3 linked regions of the Homo sapiens genome follow. The protein of the gene in region 1 purifies or fractionates together with the protein of each later gene. This does not show direct contact. Each region holds a gene or a part of one and is shown in the gene's direction. Other genes may lie near its edges.

The links. The genes of interacting proteins can lie anywhere in the genome.
Region 2: the proteins of P2RY8 (region 1) and C19orf25 purify together in Homo sapiens (affinity purification with mass spectrometry; 3 studies listed by BioGRID and IntAct, with this or other methods). This does not show direct contact.
Region 3: the proteins of P2RY8 (region 1) and ACAD10 purify together in Homo sapiens (affinity purification with mass spectrometry; 3 studies listed by BioGRID and IntAct, with this or other methods). This does not show direct contact.

What each region holds. Positions count from the first base shown.
Region 1 is NC_000023.11:1,534,166-1,541,307, reverse strand, and holds the start of P2RY8 (S-geranylgeranyl-glutathione receptor P2RY8), read left to right. Parts: upstream 1-4,122; 5' UTR 4,123-4,387; intron 4,388-7,142. UniProt on the Homo sapiens protein: G protein-coupled receptor for S-geranylgeranyl-glutathione (GGG), an endogenous metabolite present in lymphoid tissues.
Region 2 is NC_000019.10:1,476,203-1,484,109, reverse strand, and holds the start of C19orf25 (UPF0449 protein C19orf25), read left to right. Parts: upstream 1-4,894; 5' UTR 4,895-4,947; exon of another isoform or gene 4,948-4,970; intron 4,971-5,204; 5' UTR 5,205-5,206; coding exon 5,207-5,336; intron 5,337-7,907. Other genes in the region: PCSK4 (proprotein convertase subtilisin/kexin type 4), read left to right, coding at 1-83, 169-272, 343-460, 647-826, 1,090-1,214, 1,635-1,757, 1,903-2,351.
Region 3 is NC_000012.12:111,752,040-111,757,612, forward strand, and holds the end of ACAD10 (acyl-CoA dehydrogenase family member 10), read left to right. Parts: intron 1-1,732; coding exon 1,733-1,876; intron 1,877-3,628; coding exon 3,629-3,706; intron 3,707-4,293; coding exon 4,294-4,434; 3' UTR 4,435-5,060; downstream 5,061-5,573.

The sequences.
Region 1 (7,142 bases):
TATTTTTACATTTTTGTGCATTTTGTTGGCGATTTCTGTTTCAAAAGCCCCAGAAGCTGCAAAGCTGCCTAGCATCCGTAAGCCCATGAAGACTGCAGCGCGTCTTCTGGAGAAAATAGGTGTGTTAGAGACGCTTTGCCCAGGCATGAATTATAATGCCGTTGGCTGTGAGTTCAATGTGACTGCGTCCACAATATCGACTCCATACGGCTTTTTAAACAGAAACACACGTAAAATAAGGTTATGTATGGATCAGCTGTGAAAAATTTGGGGACCAGAGGTACAAAAGCTACAGGCGTCTAAGTGTGGACTTTTTGCAGGACGGTTTGTATTTGTTAACTCAGCGTTTGCTCCGACTTTATGGACCACGTCTACCATGAAGAAGGAGGGACCACTGTAATCCTGAAGACAAACACTTCACAAACTGATGAATAGACTCTGCCTTTGATTTTCTTTCCTTTTTTTTTTTTTTTTTTTTTTTTTTTTTTGAGACAGAGTCTCACTCTGACGCCCAGGCTGGAGTGCAGTGGCATGATCTCGGCTCACTGCAATCTCTGCCTCCCGGGTTCAAGCAATTCTCCTGCCTCAGCGTTCCGAGTTGCTGAGACTACAGGCATATGCCACCACGCCTGGTTAATTTTTGTATTTTTGGTAGAGACTGCAACCTCCACTTCCCGGGTTCAAGCGATTCTCCTGCCTTAGCCTCTCTAGTAGCTGAGATTACAGGTGTCTGTGACCATACCCGGCTAATTTTTGTATTTTTAGTACAGACAGTATTTCACCATGTTGGCCAGGCTGGTCTTGAACTCCTGACCTCAGGTGATCCGCCCACCTCGGCCTCCCAAAGTCCTGGGATTATAGGCATGAGCCACTGTGCCCAGCCTTTACTTTATTTTAGATTCCGGGGGTACATGTGCAGGTTTGTTACAAGGGTATCTTGTGTGATGCTGAGATTTTGGGTATGAATGATCTCATGACCTAGCTACTGAGTTTAGCACCCAGTAGGTAGTTTTTCAGCCCTTCATCTCCCTCCCTCCCCACTCTAGGAGTCTGTAACGCCTCTTCTTCCCATCTTTTTTTTTTTTTTTGAGACAGAATTTTCACTCCTGTTGCCCAGGCTGGAGTGCAGTGGTGCGATCTTGGCTCACTGCAACCTCCACCTCCAGGGTTCAAGCGATTCTCCTGCCTCAGCCTCCTGAGTAGCTGGGATTACAGGCATGTGCCACCATGCTCGAGTAATTTTTGTACTTTTAGTAGCGACTGCAACCTCCTCTTCCCGGGTTCAAGCGATTCTCCTGCCTCAGCCTCCCGAGTAGCTGAGATTACAGGTGTCTGTGACCATGCCCAGCTAATTTTTGTGTTTTTAGTACAGACAGGGTTTCATCATGTTGGTCAGGCTGGTCTCAAACTCCTCACCTCAGGTGATCCACCCACCTCGGCCTCCCACAGTGCTGGGATTACAGGCATGAGCCACCACGCCTGGCCTGTTGTTCCCATCTTTATGTCCATGAGTACCCTGTGTTTACCTCCTGCTTATAAGTGAGAACATGCGGTATTTGGCTTTCTGTCTCTGTATTAATTTACTTTGGAGAATGGCCTCCGGCTGGATCCAAGTTGCTGCAAAGGACATGATTTCATTCTTTTTCACAGCTTTGTACTATTCCATGGTGTCTATGTACCCCATTTTATTATTTTTTATTTTTATTTGTTTATTTATTTATTTTTTGAGACAGAGTTTCGCTCTTGTTGCCCAGGCTGGGGTGCAGCGGCATGATCTCGGCTCACTGCAACCTCCGCCTCCCGGGTTCAAGCGATCCTCCTGACTCAGTCTCCCAAATAGCTGGGATTACAGGTGTCTTTCACCACGCCAAGATTATTTTTTGTATTTTTAGTAGAGAGGGGGTTTCTCCATGTTGACCAGTCTGGTCTCGAACTCCTGACCTCAGGTGATCCACCTGCCTCGGCCTCCCAGACTGCTGGGATTACAGGCGTGAGCCTCTGCACCCGCCGGTCACGTACCCTATTTTCTTTATCCGATGCATGGTGGATAAGCACCTGGGTTGACTCTGTGTCTTTGCTATGGTGAATAGTGCTGTGATGAACTGTGAGTGTGGATGTCCTTTTACAGAACGATTTCCTTAATAAGGTGTTTTCAAACAGAAACACACATAATATAAAGCTACTTATTGATCTGTTGAAGAAAACACTGTGACCAGGGGCCTGAAGGATTCTTTTGATTTTTTTTTTTTTTTTTTTTGAGACAGGGTCTCTCTCTGTTGCCCAGGCTGGAGTGCAGTGGCATGATCTCGGCTCTCTGCAACCTCTGCCTCTCTGGTTCAAGTCATTCTCTTGCCTCAGCCTCCCCAGTAGCTGGAACTACAGGCCCCCACCATCACACCCAGCTAATTTTTGTATTTTTAGTAGAGACAGGGTTTCGCCATGTTGGCCAGGCTAGTCTTGAACTGCTGATCTCAAGTGATCCACCCGCCTTGGCCTCCCAAAGTGCTGGGATTATAGGCGTGAGCCACCAGGCCTGGCCTTTTTTTTTTTTTTTTTTTGAGACAGTCTCACTCTGTCACCCAGGCTGGGGTACAATGGCCCAATCTGGGCTCACTGCCACCTCCACCTCCTAGGTTCACATGCTTCTCCTGCCTCAGCCTCCCCAGTAGCTGGGATTACAGGCGTCCACCACCACGCCTAGCTAATTTTTGTATTTTTAAGGGACAGGTTTCGCTATGTTGGCCAGGCTGGTCTCGAACTCCTGACCTCAAGTGATCCGGCCCACCTTGGCACCTCAAAGTGCTGGGAATACAGGTGTGAGCCACCAGGCCTCGACTTTTTTTTTTTTTTTGAGACAGTCTCACTCTGTTACCCAGGCTGGAGTGCAATGGCCTGATCTTGGCTCACTGCAACCTCCAGCTCCCGGGTTCAAGTGATTCTCCTGCCTCAGCCTCCCCAGTAGCTAGGATTACAGGCATCCACCACCATGCCCAGCTAATTTTTGTATTTTTAGTAGGGACGGGATTTCGCTATGTTGGCCAGGCTGGTCTCGAACTCCTGACCTCAAGTGATCCACCCGCCTTGGCCTCCCAAAGTGCTGGGATTATAGGCGTGAGCCAGCAGGCCTGGTCTTTTTGTTTGTTTGTTTGTTTTTTGGGACAGTCTCACTGTCACCCAGACTGGAGTGCAATGGCCTGATCTTGGCTCACTGCAACCTCCACCTCCCAGGTTCAAGTGATTCTCCTGCCTCAGCCTCCCCAGTAGCTGGGACTACAGGTGTCCACCACCACACCCAGCTAATTTTTGTGTTTTTAGTAGGGACGGGATTTCGCCATGTTGGCCAGGCTGGTCTCAAACTCCTGACCTGAAGTGATCCACCCGCCTTGGCCTCCCAAAGTGCTGGGACTACAGGCGTGAGCCACCACACCCAGCCTGGCTTGAGGGATTGATTCTACCATGTCTTTTCCCTGAGCAGTGGTTCAATATTCATTCATTCTTTCTCAGTGACAGATCCTTCCCTCTCAACCTCCTCCCACGAGTGACAAGAACCAACCGTTGCTCCTCACAAGCAAGGATACCAGAGCTCGGAAACCTGGTTCTCATTCCTGAAACTGGCCGATCCCCCATGGGATGTTGAGGATATGAGCCTGCAGCGCCCGTGACCAACTGTGAGAGCCGGAATGATCAGTGCCCAAGGTCTGTTCGCTTGTCACAGTCTGGCTGTGTACCAAGAGATGTCGCAATGAGCACAGCTTTAGAGTCTAAAAGGAAACGTGTTCTGTTCTTTCTTTGTTTTGTTTTGTTATTTCAGAAGAAACAGGAATCGGTTCTGGAGCATGCCACGGCTCTTCACTGCTGGTTACAAAATTTAGAAAAATCATTCTCCCTCTTTTCCTCACTCTCAGGGTTCTCTTAAGAGTAGGGCCCCCTGCGAGCCAGTGATAGGGAGGTGGGCGGTTAACGGTGCTGCCCAGAGACACAGCGACGTTACTCCAGTGGGCTCAGCCCTGCACATGAGTGTTCAGACAGTTACAGAGGAAATGTCACAACACACTTCCTTTCCACCTAAGCCTGAGTCGCAACCGTGGTGGTGCGCTGGGAGGTGGAGTTTGCAGAATTTGCATTCGGAGACAGTCGTGCCAGCCGGTGGGCCACCCAGCGAAGCGGCCGCCTTTGCAAGGTTGCTGGACAGATGGAACTGGAAGGGCAGCCGTCTGCCGCCCACGAACACCTTCTCAAGCACTTTGAGTGACCACGGCTTGCAAGCTGGTGGCTGGCCCCCCGAGTCCCGGGCTCTGAGGCACGGCCGTCGACTTAAGCGTTGCATCCTGTTACCTGGAGACCCTCTGAGCTCTCACCTGCTACTTCTGCCGCTGCTTCTGCACAGGTGAGCCGCCGAGCTGGACTTTTATGCTTGTCCTGCACTGTCAAGGGAGAAGACAGGGTCGCTGGGAGGGTCCGTGTACGGTGAGAACATGGGGGAAGACGGTGCAAACTCCATGAGGCGTGTTCTCCTCACGCTAGAGCAGACCAGGAGTGCAAATTTCCTGGGAGGAAGACTTTGCACAGCCGCTTCGTCACTTAGGGGAGAAATGCTCAAATTTTCCAGGGCTGCAAGCCACCCTTCCTTTAATAACTCATTCCATGAACTTTCAGAGGCCGAGGTGGGCGGATCACGAGGTCAGGAGTTCGAGACCATCCTGGCTAACACGGTGAAACCCCGTCTCTACTAAAAATACAAAAATTAGCCAGGCGTGGTGGCAGGTGCCTGTAATCCCAGCACTTTGGGGGACCGAGGTGGGTGGATCATCTGAGGTCAGGAGTTCGAGACCATCCTGGCTAACACGGTGAAACCCCGTCTCTACTAAAAATACAAAAATTAGCTGGGCTTGGTGGTGGGCGCCTGCGGTCCCAGCTACTCGGGAGGCTGAGGCAGGAGAATGGCATGATCCCTGGAGGTGGAGCTTGCAGTGAGCAGAGATCACGCCACTGCACTCCAGCCTGGGCGACAGAGCGAGACTCTGTTTAGAAAAAAAAAAACAAAAAAAAACTCATTCCATGAAATGCGCCTCTCTTGAGGTTAACCTTAGAGAGGGTAAGCAGCTGCGGCTGCTGCACGTAACCCATTTACGCCTGAGATTGCAGTTTTTTCAATGTTTGCAATGAGACCTTGGCGATGACCTTGAGCCGTGGGATATAAATAACTCCCAAATGCTTAGCGTTCCAATAATGGAAGAGTAAGCATAAATTAAACGGGTTTTAAAGCCCTATGGGTGCCTGGATGAGCACGGTGGCCCCTCGTCACCCCCTCGGTGCCAGGGAGACCCCAGACCCGGGTCTCACGGCCACCTCAGACCTCATTTGTACAGGTCCGCTTAGAAACCCCAATTCCTTGGGTCTTGTCAGATCTGTCCCCTAAAAAGCTGAGAAAAGGCAGAGGGAGCTGCTCTGGGAATTTCAGGCCACACACAACAAGGCCTGCTGTGGCGCTTTAGGTCCCATTTCTATAAAGGGGAACCATGGTCACGTGGCTCTGTTCCCAAAAAGAAAAGGGTTTGTGTGTGTGTGTGTGTGTGTGTCTGTGTGTGTGTCTGTGTGTGTGTGTGTGTGTGTGGTTGTTTCTTCCCATGTTGTTATCTTTACGTAACGTGGATGAGAAGTCTGAAGCGCGAGAGCCCTAAGTGAAAACCGCTGAGGAGCTGAAGCCCGTGGGGAAGCAGGTGCACCTGACTGCGCCGTTCAATCTCTCCTTCCCGTTCCGTTCCTCCTTGCATAGCCCACTTGACTTTGGCAAGCAGCGCCAGATAGTAGCATATTTTGTGTTTACGGCGGTGACAGACGCCTGTAATCCCAGCACTTTGGGAGGCCGAGGTGGGTGGATCACTTGAGGTCAGGGGTTTGAGACCAGCCTGGCCAACATAGTGAAACCCCGTCTCTACTAAAAATACCAAAATTAGCCGAGTGTGGCGGCGGGCACCTGTCATCCCAGTTACTCGGCACGCTAAGGCAGCAGAATCACTTGAACCCAGGAGGCGGAGGTTGCGGTGAGCCAAGATCGCGCCACTGCACTCCAGCCTGGGTGACAGAGTGAGACTCTGTCTCAAAAAAAAAAAAAAAAAAAAAGGAATTATCCCACATTGGAAAAGCAGTACTTTCATTTAGGCACTGCCAGACAGGTGCCAGCGTCCTACGTGCACCAGGATGCTGCCCCTTTTCCCAAATATTGGCCTCCCCCACCCCACAAGAGGACAATTAGGTCAGAGGCTGAGAGAGGCGTGCATGGGACGTACGGGACGGTGGGCAACCCTGTGTTTGTAAAAGCACATGCTTTTCAGATGCCTTCTGCCAGGTCCCCGCCTGGCTGCACCATTCAGACTGACCAACCTTGGGGTGGGTGGGAGAGGTGAGGTCCCCTTGGAGAACCACAGAGACGCTCCCTCCCTCCAACCCTACCCACACTGCAGTTCTGAGTTTGTCCCTTAAAGTTCCAGGGAAGAAGCGATGGCTTAGGATTAACAACAGCAGGGTAGCTGTTGCCAGTGGTGCATACGTACAGCCCTGCGCTTGGAGAGGCCCTTTCCCCGGGCAGATGGCCCCCTCTCGTCTGAGTCTCTCTCCTGCGCCCTCTCCTTCAGCCCTGCCTCTCCATCAGGACCTCCTCATTGGCTGTGTCTGGGCATGGTCCCCAACCTCCCTCCCCCAGCCCCTCTTCTGTCCCTAGAGGCAGTGGGGTGGGCGGGGCAGGGTCCAGGGATCCCAGTGTCCACCTGGAACCCTGCTCTTCCTCTCTCGGGTTAGGAGATTCTGCACGGCCCCTGGGAGACACACAACACCCTGCCTACACCTGTTAAGGTACGGAAAGGGCGTGGGCGTGATGGGTGCCCCCAGGATCACCCCCAAGGACCAGACTGAGCTCAGGGGACTGCAGGGAGTGTTCTGCGGTTCACAATGTCGCTCCCTAGTGATGCAGTATCTGTGTTCACTTAGGATAAAGCAACAGATACACCTATCTGTGTGTGTGTATATATATATGTATTACATATATAATTATATAAATAATTATATATAAATAATATATAATATATAAATAGTAAGTATATAAATATATATGTAAATATATATAAATATATAATATATGTAAA
Region 2 (7,907 bases), on another chromosome or scaffold:
CACGGGTGCACAGACCAGCACACGGGCACCTCGGCCTCAGCCCCACTGGCGGCCGGCATGATCGCCCTAGCGCTGGAGGCCAAGTAGGTGACTGCGGGGCCCGGTCCACCGCCCTCGCCCCCAGGCGCGGCCCGGCGGCTCACCCGCCCCCGCCCCCGCCCCCCGCAGCCCGTTCCTGACGTGGAGAGACATGCAGCACCTGGTGGTCCGCGCGTCCAAGCCGGCGCACCTGCAGGCCGAGGACTGGAGGACCAACGGCGTGGGGCGCCAAGGTGCGGCGGGGCCGGGCGGGGGCGGGGACCCGGGGCCCACGGGGCGAGTGACTGCTGCCCTTCCGCGCAGTGAGCCATCACTACGGATACGGGCTGCTGGACGCCGGGCTGCTGGTGGACACCGCCCGCACCTGGCTGCCCACCCAGCCGCAGAGGAAGTGCGCCGTCCGGGTCCAGAGCCGCCCCACGTGAGACCCCTGCGCGCCCCTCCGCTATCCCCGCTGGGGGTGTGGGGGACAGGCCTGAGGCCTCAGTTTACCCATCTGTAAAACGAGGGCTGGACCCCGTGACCTCTGAGCCCCGACCTCGCCTGCTGGCCGCCCACCCACCCCCCAGCAGGCCGCAGGAGGGTCCTCACCCCTCGACCCCCTCAGCCCCATCCTGCCGCTGATCTACATCAGGGAAAACGTATCGGCCTGCGCCGGCCTCCACAACTCCATCCGCTCGCTGGAGCACGTGCAGGCGCAGCTGACGCTGTCCTACAGCCGGCGCGGAGACCTGGAGATCTCGCTCACCAGCCCCATGGGCACGCGCTCCACACTCGTGGCCATACGGTGAGCGGCCCGCAGAGGAGAGGGGGCGGCCTCATGCCCTGTCGGTAAACGCTGCCATCTACCCGGAGTGTCCTCACGGGGAGGGGCCAGGCCCATAGGAGTCACACGGCAGCCTAGTTGGTGGGACCCCGAGTCACACCCTCACCCACACCCAGAGGACACGCGGCCACCAGCGCGTGCGGTCAGACACTTCATGGGGCTCTGCCGGCTTCACAAAGCCATCCCTCTTGACACCCCCACCCCCACCCACCCTTCTGTCCCAGACCCTTGGACGTCAGCACTGAAGGCTACAACAACTGGGTCTTCATGTCCACCCACTTCTGGGATGAGAACCCACAGGGCGTGTGGACCCTGGGCCTAGAGAACAAGGGCTACTATTTCAACACGGGTGAGGGCGGGGCGGGGCTGTGGTGGGCGGGGCTTGGCTCTCCAACCTCCCCCCAGGGGCTCTGGAGCTAGCCTTGGTGACCGCACTGCAAAAGGGGTTCCCAGTGGCCTTCTCCAAGAGAACATGCACACAGTAGGCGTGCAGTCACCCGGGAGATGGTGTGCAATGACAGGCACACAGTAGGTGTGCGGTAACACGGGAGATGTAGGTGCCCAGTGACAGGCGCACAGTAGGTGTGCAGTCACCCGGGAGATGTCGGTGTCCAGTGACAGGCGCACAGTAGGTGTGCAATTCCCTGAGAGATGTGAACCAGTCCAGGGCCCCGCGTGGGAGCTGAAGGGGAGGGAGCCCGGGGACTACCAGGACCAGGCTGCCGAGAGCCTCCTTTTCCTCCTGTGCCCACCCGCGACCCCTGTCCAGGGACGTTGTACCGCTACACGCTGCTGCTCTATGGGACGGCCGAGGACATGACAGCGCGGCCTACAGGCCCCCAGGTGACCAGCAGCGCGTGTGTGCAGCGGGACACAGAGGGGCTGTGCCAGGGTGAGTGCCGGCGGGGCAGGGCCCACTGCTGGGAGGCGGTGGCGGCCACCGTGGGCAGCGTGCATGTGGCCCCAGGCGGGCGGGTGGCGAGTAACAGGCTGCGGGTGGCAAGCTGACGGGCCTTTGCGTGCGTGTCCCCGAGCAGCGTGTGACGGCCCCGCCTACATCCTGGGACAGCTCTGCCTGGCCTACTGCCCCCCGCGGTTCTTCAACCACACAAGGCTGGTGACCGCTGGGCCTGGGCACACGGCGGCGCCCGCGCTGAGGGTCTGCTCCAGCTGCCATGCCTCCTGCTACACCTGCCGCGGCGGCTCCCCGAGGGACTGCACCTCCTGTCCCCCATCCTCCACGCTGGACCAGCAGCAGGGCTCCTGCATGGGACCCACCACCCCCGACAGCCGCCCCCGGCTTAGAGCTGCCGCCTGTCCCCACCACCGCTGCCCAGCCTCGGCCATGGTGCTGAGCCTCCTGGCCGTGACCCTCGGAGGCCCCGTCCTCTGCGGCATGTCCATGGACCTCCCACTATACGCCTGGCTCTCCCGTGCCAGGGCCACCCCCACCAAACCCCAGGTCTGGCTGCCAGCTGGAACCTGAAGTTGTCAGCTCAGAAAGCGACCTTGCCCCCGCCTGGGTCCCTGACAGGCACTGCTGCCATGCTGCCTCCCCAGGCTGGCCCCAGAGGAGCGAGCACCAGCACCCGACGCCTGGCCTGCCAGGGATGGGCCCCGTGGAACCCCGAAGCCTGGCGGGAGAGAGAGAGAGAGAAGTCTCCTCTGCATTTTGGGTTTGGGCGGGAGTGGGCTGGGGGGAGAGGCTGGAGCACCCCAAAAGCCAGGGGAAAGTGGAGGGAGAGAAACGTGACACTGTCCGCCTCGGGCACCGCGTCCAACCTCAGAGTTTGCAAATAAAGGTTGCTTAGAAGGTGCTCAGTCTGTGGCCTCCTCTGGAGCAGGGTGGGCCCGAGGCCCCAGGGCTCAGGTGGTTTCTGCTTGGGGTCCCCGGACATCAGTCCATGGAGAATGCAGCCGGCCACGGAGAAAGAGTCCGCCCAGGCCCAGGGACCCCAGGCAGTGGGAACAGCAGGGAATGGCCGGGGGTCAGCAGTAATGTCCAGCCCCAGAACATGGCTCACCATGGCCCAGAATCCTCTCCTGCGGTGATTCCTTTGTTTTTTTTCTTGTTTGTTTTGAGACAGGGTCTCCCTACGTTGACTAGGCTAGAGTACAGTGGTGCGATTGTAGCTCACTGCAGCCTTGAACCCTGGCCTCAAGCAATCTTCCCTCCTTGGCCTCCCAAAGTGCTGGGATTACAGGCGTGAGCCACTGTGCCTGGCCCTTTCCTCCCTCCCTCCCTTCCTTCCTTTTCTTTACTTCCTTCCTTCTTTCCTTCCTTTCTTCCTTCTCTTTCCTTCCTTTTTTAGTAGAGATGGGTTTCACCATGTTGGCCAGGATGGTCTCGATCTCCTGACCTCGTGATTCGCCCACCTCGGCCTCCCAAAGTGCTGGGATTACAGGCTTGAGCCACCGCACCTGGCCCCTTCCTTCCTTTCCTTTTCTTTCTTTCTTTCCTTCTTTCTCTTTCCTTTTTCTTTCTTCCTCTTTCTTTTCTTTTTCTTTCTCTCTCGCCTTCCTTTCTTCCGTTCTTCCTTCTCTTTCCTTCCTTTCCTTTCTTTTCTCCCTTTTCTTCTTTACTTTCTTCTCTTTATTTCCTTTTTCTTTTTTTTCTTTCTCTCTCTCCTTCCTTCCTTTTTCTTCTCCTTCCTTCTTTCCTTTCTTTCTCTTTCTTTCCTTTTCCCTCTCTCTGTCCCTTCCTTCCTTCCTTCTCTCTCAACAATATTTTTTTTTTTGAGACAGAGTCTTGCTCTGTCGCCCAGGCTGGAGTGCAGTGGCACGATCTCGGCTCACTGCAAGCTCTGCCTCTCGGGTTCATGCCATTCTCCTGCCCCAGCCTCCTGAGTAGCTGGGACTACAGGCAACCGCCACCATGCCTGGTTAATTTTGTTTTTCTTTTTGTATTTTTAGTAGAGACAGGGTTTCACCATGTTAGCCAGGATGGTCTTGATCTCCTGACCTCGTGATCCACCCACCTCGGCCTCCCAAAGCGCTGGGATTACAGGCGTGAGCCAACACACCCAGCCTAATTTTTGTATTTTTAGTAGAGACGGGGTCTCACCATGTTGGCCAGGCTGGTCTCAAACTGGCCTCAAGTGATCTGCCCGCCTCGGCCTCCCAAAGTGCTGGGATTACAGGCATGAGCCACCGCGCCCAGGCTGAATTTACAGTTTAAACAGGCGAATTTGGCCGGGCGCGGTGGCTCACGCCCGTAATCCCAGCACTTTGGGAGGCTGAGGCGGGCGGATTGCCTGAGCTCAGGAGTTTGACACCAGCCTGGGCAACACAGTGAAGCCCCATCTCTACTAAAATACAAAAAAAAATTTTGACGGACGTGGTGGCGGGCGCCTGTAGTCCCAGCTACTCGGGAGGCTGAGGCAGGAGAATTGCTTGAACTCGGGAGGCGGAGGTTGCAGTGAGCTGAGATCACGCCACTGCACTCCGGCCTGGGCGACACAGTGAGACTCTGTCTCTAAAAAAACAAAACAAAACGAAATAAACAGGAGAACTTTATGGTATGTAAACTGCATCTCAATAAAGCCCCTGAGAGAGGAAAAGGGCCCTCTGCTCTTTCTGCCTTCCCAGGCATCAGCGGAGAGGAAAAGGTGACCTCCAGCACCGTCCCCGAGGTGGGAGGACCCGCCTTGGCCGGAAGTGGAGGCGCCGCGACCGCCCCGCCCCCGCTGTGTTCCGGCCGCCGAGTGCTCATGCACCACCAGGCTCCCTTAGGTGGACAGCAATTTTGTGCTCCCGTCAGCCACATGGGTGGCGTGTCCCCTAGTGCCGTGTTCCCCTTTTCAGAAAGACGAGCCTCGGATGCTTTTCTACCCAGCCAGTGGAGCCTGGACTCGAACTCGCTCTCATCGTAGCGCGTCCAGGTTCGGGTTCGCCTGAGAGGCTGAGATCCGAGTCTCAAGGGCACTATCCCTTTAAGACGGGGCGGAGCCCCGCGATGAGCGGCGGGCCGGCGGGAGAGGAGGCCGGAAGTGTGTGTCACGTGTTCGGGGACGGGGCGGTGCTCCGACCGGAATCGGAAGTGGCTGCGTCGTCGACGCTGGGCTTTCGGGTCCCGCGCCCAGGTGGGAAGAGGCCGGCGACTGGGGTGACCGCGGGGAAACTGAGGCAGAGGTTGAGCCAGACCCTGAAGCCTTGGCCACCGTGTTTTTGGGCGGAGGGAGGGTCAGGGCCTGGGGCGAGCTCAGAGGGGCGGGACAGGGCGGGCTTCCCCGGGAGCGGGACCGCGACGGGTGCGTACGAGTTCGCTGGGCGGGAGGAGCAGCCCGGGCAAGGGCGGAGAGGTGGACGCCCCGGTCAGCGCCCCCTTCCCCGCCTTCAGAGATGGGCTCCAAGGCAAAGAAGCGCGTGCTGCTGCCCACCCGCCCAGCGCCCCCCACGGTGGAGCAGATCCTGGAGGATGTGCGGGGTGCGCCGGCAGAGGATCCAGTGTTCACCATCCTGGCCCCGGAAGGTAGGGGGAGCCCGGTCCCGGGGAAAAGCGGACCTGAGACCCCGGCAGCAAGGGGACGGGAGAGAAGCACACCCCTAACTCCTGACCCCACGCCCTGGGAACCCCCGCAACATGGGCACGGTCCGTATCCTCTCCGAGTCTCCCTCTACTCCTCCGTAGAGTGGGACCGATTTTCAGAGGGTTCTTCTGACAGGGGTGGAGGCCGGGCGCTGTGGTTCAGGCCTGTAAGCCCAGCACTTTCGGAGGATGAGGCGGGAGGATCGCTTGAGCCCAGGAGTTCGAGACCAGCCTGGCCAACATGGTGAAACCCCGTCTCTGCTAAAAATGAAAAAACAAAACAAAAACAAAAACAAAAACAAAACAGAGTTAGCTGGGCATAGTGGCAGGCGCCTGTAATCTCAGCTACTCGGGAGGCTGAGGCAGGAGAATCGCTTGAACCCGGGATGCAGAGTTTGCAGTGAGCCGAGATCGCACCACTGCACTCCAGCCCAGGTGACAGTGCGAGACTGTCTCAAAAAAAAAAAAAAATTACTGGGTGTGGTGGTGGACACTTGTAGCCCCAGCTTCTTGGAGGCTAAAGTGGGAGGATACAGCCTAGGCAACACAGCCAGACTGTGTCTCAAAAATAAATAAGTGGCCGGTGCGGTGGCTCACGCCTATAATCCCAGCACTTTGGGAGGCCGAGGTGGGTGGATCACTTGAGGTCAGAGGTTGGACACCAGCCTGGCCAACATGGTGGAACCTTGTCTCTACTAAAAATACAAAAATTAGCCGGGTGTGGTGGCATGGGCCTGTAATCCCAGCCACTCAGGAGACTGAGGCAGGAGAATCACTTGAACCTGGGAGTCGGAGGTTGCAGTGAGCTGAGATCACGCAACTGCACTCCAGCCTGGACCACAGTGAGACTCTGTTTCAATAATTATAATAATAATTAATAAATAGAAATAAATAAAGTAAAACAGAGGTGGTAAGCTAGGGCCCCCCAAACCCTGCCCCTGGCTGTTTTTTTAAGGTCTGGGAGCTATGAATGGACTTCACATTTTTAAATGGGGGTGGGTGAAAAAGAACATTTCTGACACCTGAAAGAGGTATGAAATTCAGATTTCAGTGTTGGTAAGTAAAGGTTTACGGCACACAGCCAAATGATTCACATACGGTTAGTGGCTGCTCTCACACCAGAAGGGCAGAGTTGAGTAGTGGGAGCAGAGACTCCAGCCTTTGGCAGGAAAGCTTGTCCACTCCTGATTTACGAGGTGGAAGCTAGTCAGAGACCAAAGGATTCAGCAGTGCAGTTGGGTGAATTTTGTGTTCTGGATGAGGCTCATTCATTCATTCAACAATCCTTTTCTTGAGCACTTCCTGTGTGCTGGGCTCTGCGCTTAGAGCACTGCTAATGGACAAGTGAACAAAAGAAACAAGAATGTCTGCCCCAGGCTGTTCTGGGGCTGGCGGGAAACAAATGAAGATGAATCGGCCAGGTGCGGTGGCTCACACCTGTAATCCCAGCACTTTGGGTGGCTGAGGTGGGCGGATCATTTGAGGTCAGGAGTTCAAGGCCACCCTGGCCAACATGGTGAAACCCCGTCTCTACTGAGAATACAAAAACATTAGCTGGGCATGGTGGCGCATGCCTGTAATCCCTGCTACTTGGGAGGCTGAGGCAGGAGAATTGCTTGAACCCAGGAGGCGGAGGTTGCAGTGAGCTGAGATCGTGCCACTGTACTCCAGCCTGGGTGACAGAGCAAGACTCTATCTCAAACAAAAAAAAAAAAGAAAAAAGAAAATGAGCCATGTGGAATGATAGAAACTGTGAATTTCTAAGGGAACATTTTTAAAAAGTAATATTAGAAAATTCTGGGGCCAGGTGCAGTGGCTCATGCCTGTAATCCCAGGACTTTGGGAGGCTGAGGCAGGAGGATGACTTGAGGCCAGGAGTTCAAGACCAGCCTTGGCAGCATAGCAAAACCTATATCTACCAAAAATACACAAACTAGCTGGGTGTGGTGGCATGCACCTGTGGTCTTAGCTACTCAGGAGGCTGAGGCAGGAGGGTTGCTTGCGCCCAGGAGTTGGAGTCTCCAGCCTGAGTGACAGAGTGAGACCCTGTCTCTGAAAAAGAAAAAAAGAGAAAAATTGAGTTGTGTTTTCCCTTTAGACATATTTCAAGTGCCCAGGAGCCACACATGGCTGGTGGCTGGTGTGGACCAGCATCGGTGGGAGGTGTGCGCATCATCTGGAAGGTTCTGTGGGCCGGTACTGGTCAAGGTGCATGAGTTGGTTTTATTCCCAGCATGCAGTTCGGTCACCTGAGGGTGCTGGGGCCGTGGTTTGAGCTTCATGGGCTCAGGTCCATGGCCGTTGAGTGTGGCGAAACTGAGGCACGCTGTGCGGGGGACGGGGGGCGCTCACAGAAGGTAGGGGGCCTCCTGTGCCTTCATCCAGGCACTGCCCGGCCTTTCCCACCCTGTTGCTAAAGCAGGTGATGACAGAGGTGATTTGATCAGCCCAGACCCGTGCGGCACGTGGAGCCTTCGTCCGTGGGAGACCACACTGCCGAGGGGCAGGCCAGAG
Region 3 (5,573 bases), on another chromosome or scaffold:
AAGAGCGATACTCTGTCTCAAAAAAAAAAAAAAAAAGTAGCCAGGTGTGGTGGCACACATTTATAGTCCTAGCTACTCAGGAGGCTGAGGTGGGAGGATCTCCTGAGCCTGGGAGGTCGAGGCTGCAGCGACCTGTGAGTGTGCCATTGCACTGCAGCCTGGGTAACAGAGCAACACCCTGTCTGGGAAAAAAAAAAACAAACAAAAACAGGCTGTTAGCTTTGATGCAAAATAATGTTTTGTTGTTGTTGTTGTTGTTGTTGTTATTGTTTTAAGCAGGCTGGCCGGGTGCTGTGGTTCATGCCTGTAATCCCAGCACTTTGAGAGGCCAAGGCAGGCAGATCACCTGAGGTCAGGAGTTCAAGACCAGTCAGGCCAAAATTATGAAACACCCCATCTCTATTAAAAAAATACAAAAATTAGCCAGGTGTGGTGGCAGGCACCTGTAATCTCAGCTACTTGGGAGGCTGAAGCAGGAGAATCACTTGAACCCCGGGAGGCAGAGGTTGCAGTGAGCCGAGATCGCGCCACTGCACTCCAGCCTGGGCAACAAAAGCGAAACTCTGTCTCAAACAAACAAAAAGGCTACAAAACCATATATAGAGTGTGGCTCCCGTTTTTGGAAAAAATAAGTATATATAAAAAAACTATAGAAGGATAGAGGAGAATATCCACCAAATATTAACTAGTGGTGACTAGATGGTGGGATTCTAGGTGCTCTTACTGTCTTCTCTTTTTTTGTTCTGAAAACAGGTAGTTTTTCTGCCATGAGATAAATTATTTGTGTAGATTGTTTTTAGTGAAAAAAAAAAAAAAAAACTAGGCTGGGTGTGGTGGTTCATGCCTGTAATCCCAACACTTGGGGAGACCAAGGCAGGAGGATTGCCTGAGTCTAAGAGTTTGAGACCAGTCTGGGCAATGTAGTGAGACCCTGTCTCTACAAAAAATTGGAAAGTTAGCTAGATGTGGTGGTTCTTGCCTGTGGTCCCAGCTACTCAGGTGGCTGAGGTAGGAAGATTGCTTGAGCCCGGGAGGCGGAGGTTGCAGTGAGCCAAGATCACGCCACTGCACTCCAGCCTGCGCAACAAAGTGAGACCCCGTCTCCAAAAAAATAATAAAAAAAAGAAGGAAAAAGAATAAATAAAACAAGAAAAAAAAAGGAATACTTAGAACCTTTTCTGATGCCTTGTGACTTTCAGAATTTAAAATCCCCCTTGCAGATAAGGCCACCCACGGCGGAAGGCCGGGAGCGAGACGGGGCTGAGGGGACCTTGCTCCCATTGGAGCTGCAGGGCAGGAAGGGGTGCTGCGGTCAGCAGAGGGCACCCTTCGCCTGCGCCGTGTGCAGTGCCTGCAGTCACTCCCTCATTCCCAGGAGTAGCCTTGGGTCAGATGCTGGCTCAGATCTATAACTGCTCCTGTCTGGTAGCCAGGCCTGCCCAGATGTGCAATGGCTGGAATAAAGGGTTCTTGGAAGCAATTTGTTACAGGCACCCTGTGGGCTGTGGCTGGCTGTGGCACACGTGAAGGTTGTGTGTCAGACCTACTCCCTGGACATGGCGCATGGCTGCACACAGGCACCTTGGCTGAGAAGATGCACAGTCCTGGTTTCACTCTCCTCCCCTGCCCTGTCCTGTCTGCTTCCACCCAGCTCTGCAGGCCACCAGCCCCCGCCTCTCGTGGCCACCCCCAGCCCAGCATGTCCTCAGCCGCACATCTCCTGTGTCGACAGGTGAAGTCCCGCTTGGCTTTTGGGAAGCCCCTGGTGGAGCAGGGCACAGTGCTGGCGGACATCGCGCAGTCGCGCGTGGAGATTGAGCAGGCACGGCTGCTGGTGCTGAGAGCTGCCCACCTCATGGACCTGGCAGGAAACAAGGTAGGGGCAGGGGCACGAGGGGGCCTCCCAGAGGCAGAGATTCTTCCTCCTCACTCAGCAAAGCATGAGAGCCTGGCTTCTTGACATTAGAAACTTTATTTCACCTCTACTTGGAGCTGTTTGGGCAGTTTTTCAAAAATTGGAAAGGCACAAGAAGAGAGGACTGGCCTTTGTGTTTTACTGACCTGGTGAGCTGCTTAGTCCAAGGCAGTGGGTCTGATGGGGCCACAGGGCCCCTGGGTGGCCCTGGACTCCCAGGGCCATTGGTGGAGGTGTTGGGCAACCTAAGAGTAAGGCAGGGAAAAGGGACCCTCTGCTGGCCTTCATCTGAATATTGAATTAACAAAAATAGAAGCTTATTTTCAAGTGTGACATTAGTCATTCACTAAGGCTCTTTTTAACCTTTTATTTATTTATTTTTTGAGACAGGGCCTTGCTCTGTAGCCAGGCTAGAATGCAGTGGTACATCATGGCTCACTGAAGCCTCAGCCTCCCAAGTAGCTGGGACTCCAGGCGCAAACCTCCATGCCCAGCTAATTCTTTATTTTTTGTAGAGACCGGCTCTCACCATGTTGCCCAGGCTAACTAAGGCTCTTTCTAAGTGCCTGTGATGACCAAGCACAATGCCATGTTGACCTTGCTTTGTCCAGCTTTCTGTGGGGCAGCCTCCAACCCCACCCAAGACCCTCAACCATCAGGGACCAACCCATGCTCATGCTCACAGTTCCTGGTTCTTTGACGCTGGCGTGCTAGATATGGTGGAGGCTGCTGGGTGTCTCCCTTGAACACCCTGCCCCAGGGCAGATCACTGTAGCTCGGTTTCCCAGAGCCCTGAGTGGCCTTGGTCCACTGCTGCTTGGAGGCAGAGCTGGCCGTGACCCTGAGCAAAGCACAGGACCCTCCCCTTATCCCTTCAGTGTGTGCTGGCTGTGTTCCCCGTCATCTGGGAAGACAGCCACATTCTGCCAGCACTTGCTTCGCATCTTGTGACATAAGATAATAGTTGCCAACATGGCGCCCTTCATCCCTGGGTGCTGTCAAGCCGTACACCAGGCAGGGGCAGCCTCACCCAGCTCACATCAGCGAGACCTTGGGGCCTCTGTTTTGGACGGTGGTGTTTGACTTCTTGCTGGGAATCTGATCATTCTTCCAGGCTTTCTGCCTTCGGGTCTTTTTTGTGGTTTAGTTTTTCGTTTTGTTTTTGAGAGACAGAGTCTCACTCGGTGGCCCAGGCTGGAGTAGAGTGGCACAATCTTGGCTCACTGCAACCTCCGCCTCCCGGGTTCAAGCAGCTCTCTTGCCTCAGTTTCCCAAGTAGCTGGGACTACAGGTGTGCACCATCACGCCCAGCTAATTTTTGTATTTTTTAGTAGAGACTGGGTTTCACTATATGTTGGCCAGGTTGGTCTCAAACTCCTGACCTCAGGTGATCTGCCCGCCTCGGCCTCCCAAAGTGCTGGAATCACAGGCCTGAACCACCGCGCCTGGCCTGTTGTTTGTTTTTGAGAGGGGGTCTCACTCTGTTGTCCAGGCTTGAGTGCAGTGTTGCAATCTCAGCTTACCACAGCCCCCAACTTCCCAGACTCAAACAATCCTCTCACCTCAGCCTCCTGAGTAGCTGGGACTACAAGCACATGCTACCACACCCTGCTAGTTTTTGTATTTTTAGTAGAGATGGGGGACGGGGGGGCCTCACTCTGCCACCCAGGCTGCCCTCGGGTCTTTTATGATCGCATCTCCTCCTCCTTACAGGCTGCAGCCTTGGATATAGCCATGATTAAAATGGTCGCCCCGTCCATGGCCTCCCGAGTGATTGATCGTGCGATTCAGGTGAGCACAGACCAGACAGTTGGCTTATTTGAACCATCAATACTAGATGCCAAACTCTCCTATCTTCAGCCGCCCAGCCTCCCATAGACCCTGGCAGATGCCCTGTGTCACCCACTCACCATGCATGCAACTTTCCTTTTCCTCTTCAGAATGACCCAGCAAGGTGGGAGGTGCCATCGTACCCCCATTTTGAATGTGAGGAAACAGGCACAGAAAAGTGAAGTGACTTGTCCAGGTCACTGAGCTTGCAAGTAGCTGACCTCAAATTCACATGAACTTGGGTTTTCATAAGCCCAGAGCCCAGGCTCTTTCCCATGCAGGGGGGCCGCCTCCTTAGATCCTAACCCCCGGCCCCAGCACAGGGCAGAAGGCACCTGCAGAGTGGGCCTGGGGAGTCTGGAGGCCGTGGGATGGCAGGTGTGGCCCCATGGAAGCCCTCTGGAATATTAGTGATTGTATCACATAGGTGCCACAGGGAAGTCCGGGAAGATGGTTGTTATGGGCCATCAAGAGCAGGCTATCATTCCTGGGGCTCTCGGAGACAAGGGCTGACCCAGGGCCGCCTCCCTCCACTCTGTGTCTGCCAGGCCTTTGGAGCAGCAGGCCTGAGCAGCGACTACCCACTGGCTCAGTTCTTCACCTGGGCCCGAGCCCTGCGCTTTGCCGACGGCCCTGACGAGGTGCACCGGGCCACGGTGGCCAAGCTAGAGCTGAAGCACCGCATTTAGAGCCTTGGGGCTGCAGTGGCTCAATGTCCTGGCTGGTCCAGCTGTGCCCAGATCTGTCACTGATGTGCCTCGAAAGATCCGGTGTTTGTGGCTCCTGCACCCTGCTCAGCAGCTCTGTCCCGGGACAGTCAGGGTGGACTCAATCTTTCTGGTTCTCCACAGAAGACGTCTCTGCAAGAAGCCTGGAGTCTGTTTCAGGCCAGGAGGAGGGGATTTGCTGAGGGCCAAGGGGGTTCTGGGACAGAGTCTGGAAAGCTGGTCTTCAGGCTCTCAGTCCCAGGCTGGGCAGGCACGGTCACTTCACTTCAGCCTTTCAGTCCCTCTCTCTCTGCCTGTGGGAATCTGGACACATTTTGGGAGGCCTCCCAAGGCTGTGGGACGTGCTTGCTCTGGCAGCTGCAGGGTTCCTGTCTGGCCTCCCTGGTGAGCAGAGGGGCGGCCACGGCGGGCGGTGGCCTAGAGACCCAGGACCTGGGCGCCTGGGAAAATGGAATGCAACCCACATTGTAAAGCCACTGGCATCTGATTATCTCCATTTGAACACACAGCACAGAACAATCATTTAAATGTTATTTTGGAAAGGGGTTTTGGGGACACAGAAGAATAAGTAAACACATCTCGGAGGCTTTGTGGACTTTCTGTGTCATACAAAGAGAATCGAGTGGAGAGGTTCCCTTCAGCGCCTTCATGCCTCCTCCTGCCTGTGTTTCCTCGAGGTCCAGGCCATCATCTCAGCCCCATACATGCTGGGAGCACAGAGGCCACGGGTCCGATAAGTCCCGAGTTGGCTGCCTTCCCTCACTATGTAGCCCGGGGCTCTGTGCTCATACATACTTTACCCAGGAGCTGGCATGTGAGGCCCCTGCAGCCTCCACCTGCTCCATAGTCAGAATATCTGGGCGAAGGGGAGGTGGTGGCCCATTCGCCATTACACTTTGGAGCACAATCTCTCTTCTCTGAGGAGAGTGGAAATGCTTACTCACTTGCAGTCTGAGCTCCTTGAGAAACCCAGCGACATGCAGAGGTGAGCCAGGGGCAGTGAGGCCCCAGCCTGCTCGTCTCATAACTCGTGGTGGGGTAGCCAAAACTCGTCTCAGGTTAGACCAGACGGGCAGGAACCATCCCCCCCGGCTGCCACC